Linked DNA regions of Homo sapiens. The protein of the gene in region 1 purifies or fractionates together with the protein of each later gene. This does not show direct contact. Each region holds a gene or a part of one and is shown in the gene's direction. Other genes may lie near its edges.

Evidence for each region. Proteins that work in one complex are often made in the same cells at the same time.
Region 2: the proteins of SP4 (region 1) and AVIL purify together in Homo sapiens (affinity purification with mass spectrometry; one large-scale study listed by BioGRID and IntAct). This does not show direct contact.

The regions. Positions count from the first base shown.
Region 1 is NC_000007.14:21,473,083-21,476,582, forward strand, and holds part of SP4 (transcription factor Sp4), read left to right. Parts: intron 1-3,500. UniProt on the Homo sapiens protein: Binds to GT and GC boxes promoters elements. Probable transcriptional activator.
Region 2 is NC_000012.12:57,799,308-57,801,734, reverse strand, and holds part of AVIL (advillin), read left to right. Parts: intron 1-522; coding exon 523-591; intron 592-1,814; coding exon 1,815-1,940; intron 1,941-2,427.

The DNA.
Region 1 (3,500 bases):
TACTTTTTTATTTTTCTGGCAGCAGTGTGAAGGATGAGAAAGGAGGGAAAGCTCAATTTAGGTTGGTAGAGGCACAGATTGAACAAGGGCTTGGATCAAGATGATAATCTTGCTTGGAAACAGGTTAGCGTAAGAGCTGTTAGGCAGTAGTGTCTTCAAAATTTGGTCATCACTGGATGTAATGAGTAAAGAAGTAGCCTAAAAGATGACATTTTAAGGTTTTCAGTGTGGATAACAAGGAGAATAGGGGTAGCATTTACTGAAACAGGGACATTAGCAGAAGCAAGACTGGAAGATGAAATCATTTTTTATTTTTAAACTTTGATTTATTAAGCATATGCTATTGAGTGGCACTGTTATTGAGTTATTAGGCACTGTTACGGTACTAGAGATACAGCAGTGAACATAATAGGCAAGATCCCTACTTTCATGGCACTTTACCTTCAGAAGTGAGGTGAAGACCAAATTATAAAAGGACAAAGTAATTTAAGACAAATAAGACAAAACTAGGTGATGATACAGTGATATATTGAGGGGAGCTTTTAGATGGGATGGTCAGGAATGGCATTTCTAAAGAGGAGAGATTTGAACTCAGACCAGAATATTACAAAGGAATCAACTATGCAAAGATCTGGGTGCAAAGGCATCCCCACTTAGACTGGAGAGTATATGCAAAGTCCCTAAGAAGGAAATGAGCTTGATTTATTTGAGGGCCAGAAGAGAGGCCAGTATATCAGGTGCAGAGTGAGCAAGGGAGAGACTAATAGAGATGAGCTCTGAGAAGTCAATAGAATTAAACTTAAGTGGGGCCTCGGAGGTCTTGCTCTGGAGTTTGGTGGCTTACTGATGGCAGTGGAAATAAAGCAGTATGTTGAACTTAGCTGTCTGTGAAACATCTAGATGAAGTCAATTAACGGGCTTCAATATACAAACTCAAATATAATTTGCCTCTGTTATTCATTGAAATAACTTTCCAAGTTGTTTAGGCATTGAACAAAGAAATGCTCACAATATGGAGGCTTGAGGAGTGTGTCAAGGACATGGTCAGGGGACCAGAGGGATCAGGAATCTCTAGCAGTTCTTCCCCACCCCTCACCCCCAGACTTAGCTTTGACTTGAAACTCATCTAGCAGTTCTTTACCAAAATAAAGGTCATCTTAAATATTATTGCGACCTTTAAAGTAATGACTGTTATATAAATGTTATGAGAAAAGTAGTCAGAGAATCACGGCCAAAAATACCTGTGTCTTCAGGGGATGTAAAGGGTACTTACCAACTTAAAATACCTGCAGCTCCATAGGGACCATGCTGTAGATTTTGTATAGTGCTTGTTCAGACAGTACTCTCATTTCTAGAAATGCATTTTTTGCAGTAAACAAAGTGTGTGTATCACTGTGCTTCTTGGTACACAAGTAGTTTGAATAGATTTTGTAGCCAAGGTCATCCTTAAGCCATCTAGTTTTACTGAATACATGTTCAAAAACACTGAAACAAAATAATTATACCTTTTGTTTATGTATTGCTTTATAATTTATATAGCCTTTACCCCTGGAAAATCAACTTGATCCTCAGGAACAGCTCTTTAAAGTAGATAGGGAGCAGAAATTTTATGGAAGTCAGTGTTACTATTTTAGAGTTGAGGAAACTGAGGATCTCTGAGTGCACAGTCATAAATTTACAACTCTCACTTCACTTGCATTGCTTTACTTACCACACCATGCTAATTCAAAGGTGTACAAAAATGTAAATTTTAGTAGAGGGTTTGTATCCTTACTAAAACAGTGACAAAATAAATTTTTTAATGTGCATGTTAGTTATGGGTGCTACCAGAAGGATTAACGGTGCTGTGGATACGCAGAGGAGAGTGAGATTGACTTTGGCTGGGAGAGTCAGAGGTTTAATTTTGTTTAGAAAATGTGTACTGTTTTCTTACTTGGTACTTTTTATTGCCTCTTCTTGGTTGCCCCATACATTTAAGGTACTACATGTGCAGCTTTGAAATAACCTCCCCCACCCTTTTTTTGTTTTTTGTTTTTTGTTTTTTTTTTTGAGACAGAGTCTCACTCTTGACGCCCAGGCTGGAGTGCAGTGGCACAATTTCGGCTCACTGAAACCTCTGCCTCCCGGGTTCAAGCGATTCTGCTGCCTCAGCTTCCCAAGTAGCTGGGACTACAGGTGTGTGCTACCACACCTGGCTAATTTTTTGTATTTTTAATAGAGATGGGGTTTCACCGTGTTAGCTAGGATGGTCTCCATCTCCTGACCTCGTGTTCCACCTGCCTCAGCCTCCAAAAGTGCTGGGATTACAGGCCTGAGCCACCACGCCTGGCCTGAAAGAAACCCTTTTATTTTGTATGCAGGACCGGTATGTTTGTTTCTGCTAGCATATTTTATTGTTATTTTGAGACAGAGTCTCGCTCTGTCGCCCAGGCTGCACAGTCTCAGCTCACTGCAAGCTCTGCCTCCCAGGTTCATGCCATTCTCCTTCCTAAGCCTCCTGAGTAGCGAGTAGCTGGGACTACAGGCGCCCGCCACCACGCCCGGCTAATTTTTTGTATTTTTAGTAGAGGCTGGGTTTCACCATGTTAGCCAGGATGGTCTCGATCTCCTGACCTTGTGATCTGACATCTCAGCCTCCCAAAGTGACATATTTTATTCTTGTATTGCCACTGAACTCAGCAGAGATGAATTGGTAACAGTAGCTACCATGTAATGAGCAATTCCGTGCCAGCACTCTGGTAGAGGATTTGTAAATTTACTTAATACTTACATCAACTTTCTGAGGTAGAAACATTCTTTCATAAATTGGTATTTTCTTTTCAGTCCATTCACATACTTGTTATTCCCACACCTGATGGAGAGAATGTAGAACTGTGTGAAAGAAAAGATAATTATAAGGCATTGTAGGCCGGGCACGGTGGCTCACACCTGTAATTCCAGCACTTTGGGAGGCCAAAGCAGGTGAATCACCTGAGGTCAGGAGTTTGAGACCAGCCTGGCAAACATGGCAAAACCCTGTCTCTACTAAAAATACAAAAAAAATTAGCTGGGCATGGTGGCACACGCCTGTCATCCCAGCTACTAGGGAGGCTGAAGAAGAAGAATTGCTTGAACCCAGGAGGTGGAGGTTGCAGTGAGCCGAGATCGTGCTACTGCACTCCAGCCTGGGCGACAGAGCAAGACTCCATCTCAAAAAAAAAAAAAAAAAAAAAAAGCATTGTATTTCAGGATAATGTTAAGCCATGCCAATAGATTTTTTTATTGTTGTTTTATTGTGCATTATTTATTATATTTTTCCCAAAGTGAAGAAGCCAAGCTGGTATATATACTAATCTGAGTGATGAAGTCTAAGCTATATAACATGAATGAATAAAGTAATAATATCTTAAATGTCTTTTTATGATTACAGTGACAGTATGTAGTAATCTTGGGTGGTTTTGCATTTCAAAAACCACTTTATGTATACACTAAAAAAAGTCGAATCAATAAAGAGATGTTTA
Region 2 (2,427 bases), on another chromosome or scaffold:
GAATTTCGCTCTTGTTGTCCAGGCTGGAGTGTAATGGCACAATCTCGGCTCACTGCAACCTCTACCTCCTGGGTTCAAGCAATTCTCCTGCCTCAGCCTCCCAAGTAGCTGGGATTATAGGCATGCACCACCATGCCCAGCTAATTTTTCTATTTTTAGTAGAGATGGGGTTTCACCATGTTAGTCAGGCTAGTCTTGAACCCCTGACCTCAGGTGATCCACCCGCCTCAGCCTCCCAAAGTGCTGGGATTACAGGCATGAGCCACTGTGCCTGGCCTTCAACTGCTCTTTCTTAAATCTTATTGGGAGGACTGAGGGGTTACCATCAAAGAATGTGCGTTATGTTTAAGCACCTTTCAAGCCTGCATGGACCCAAAAGGGGGGATTTTCATTTTTACTTATCCTTGAAATGTCTTCTGACTCCCTGGCTCTTTTGCTTTTCCTGAAGACACAGACCAGACCTAAGATGTCCCTCCCCTATAAGAAAGACCTCATCCTGTGTTTTCTCTCTCTTCTTCTCAGGCAGGAAAAACATATGAACAATTAAAAGAAGAGCTGGGAGATGCTGCTGCTATCATGCGAATCACTGCTGTGAGTCGGGTTCGCTCTTGGGAGAAGCCAGCCACATGGGCAACCAGAGCCAGAGAACACACAAATGCTACAGATGCTCACAGGCAAAACTCATGTCCTTAGTATTACCATAGTTGTCTGTTTTGATGTAAAGACTTTTTGTAATCAATAGAAAAGCAGGTCTCAGAGCCAAGTTCCTTATTTTCCTGACTTCCAGATTTTCAAACAGACTTGCTGTGTAAAAACAACAAAAATGGGGCCGGGCGCGGTGGCTCATGCCTGTAATCCCAGCACTTTGGGAGGCCAAGGCGGGTGGATCACCTAAGGTCAGGAGTTTGAGACCAGCCTGACTAATATGGTGAAACCCCGTCTCTACTAAAAATATGAAAATTAGCCGGCCGTGGTGGCATGCGCCTGTAGTCCCAGCTACTCGGGAGGCTGAGACAGGAGAACTGCTTGAACCCAGGAAGCGGAAGTTGCTGTGAGCTGAGATGGCACCACTGCACTCCAGCCTGGGCAACAGAGCGAGAGTCCGTCTCAAAAACACAACAACAAAAAAATGAATATTTGTTTTATTATTCAACTCTGCCGTTTAAGGAGAGATTAAAGTCATTGGCAGTATTTTTCAGAAATAAGCTTCTAACCCAAATGACATTTTTATTCATTTCTGACAGTGAAGTCCACAGAAACTTAGGCCATTTACACCTATTTTAATGGTTAAAAGAAGTGGAGCCTCTAGCCAGGAATCCAGCAGTTCTTTAACCTCAGGAGGAGTGCATGGCACCAGGTGTTCAAACCATCTGGCAATTCTGTCCTTTGTGCTCTACAAACTCAGATTCCAAAGCTAATGTTGATGTAGTATCTTTAAATTGTATTTAAGTAGGACTACAACCTAAAGTCATTTAAAGGCTGGAAATGCAGGGCTAAATAAAAGTACCAAGAGAAGGTATGTGATCCCAATATTCAAATGAGATCCAGACACAAGATGTATGCCAAACTAGCTATACAGGACTTGCCTTGGACTTACTGAATCAGCTTTCCCAAGAACAACCCCAAAATCTGAATATTTTCTATTCCCAGATGATTCTGACATGCAGCCAGGTTTGGGGAGCATTGTTATCAAAGATGATTACAGAGGGTGAAGTGGCATAAGTCAAAATGTTAAATATTATACACATTCAGAACTGTAACCACACAGACACTGAGGAGTCTTTTCCCTGTGCCTACATTCTTATCTTACCTAGGACATGAAGAATGCAACCCTCTCCCTGAATTCTAATGACAGTGAGCCAAAATATTACCCTATAGCAGTTCTGTTGAAAAACCAGAATCAGGAGCTGCCTGAGGATGTAAACCCTGCCAAAAAGGAGGTGAGTGGCTGAAGGAACTGTGTCTGTTGGAAGTGGAGCTCTCCGTGAGTAAAAAACTCAGCTCAGCAAATGGCCTAGGACAGCTCCGGCACATTGTAGCCGCTCAATGGACATCTGAGCTACCTAGGAACTCAAACCAAAAAAAACCAGGGTTCTTTCTTGATTCTTTTCTCTCCACCTACATCAGTCTATCAGCTAGCTTCTGTTCACTCCTCTTCCATTTCTCTGCTACTAGTCTAGTCCAGCTATCATGGACTACTTACTACAATCCAACTGGTTTCCACCTGTTCCTACAATCCGTTCCCCACACAACAGCCAAAGAGATCTTTAAAATATATGGCACGGCCCTGTTTAAAACACCTGGAATAGCTTCCCACTACATTTAAAAAAAGAATGTGAAGGCCTATACAATCTGGCCCCTGCCTAGCTCTCTGATTTCATTTCATATACCAATACCCTCATCACTCACCACCCTTCAGCCAGTACA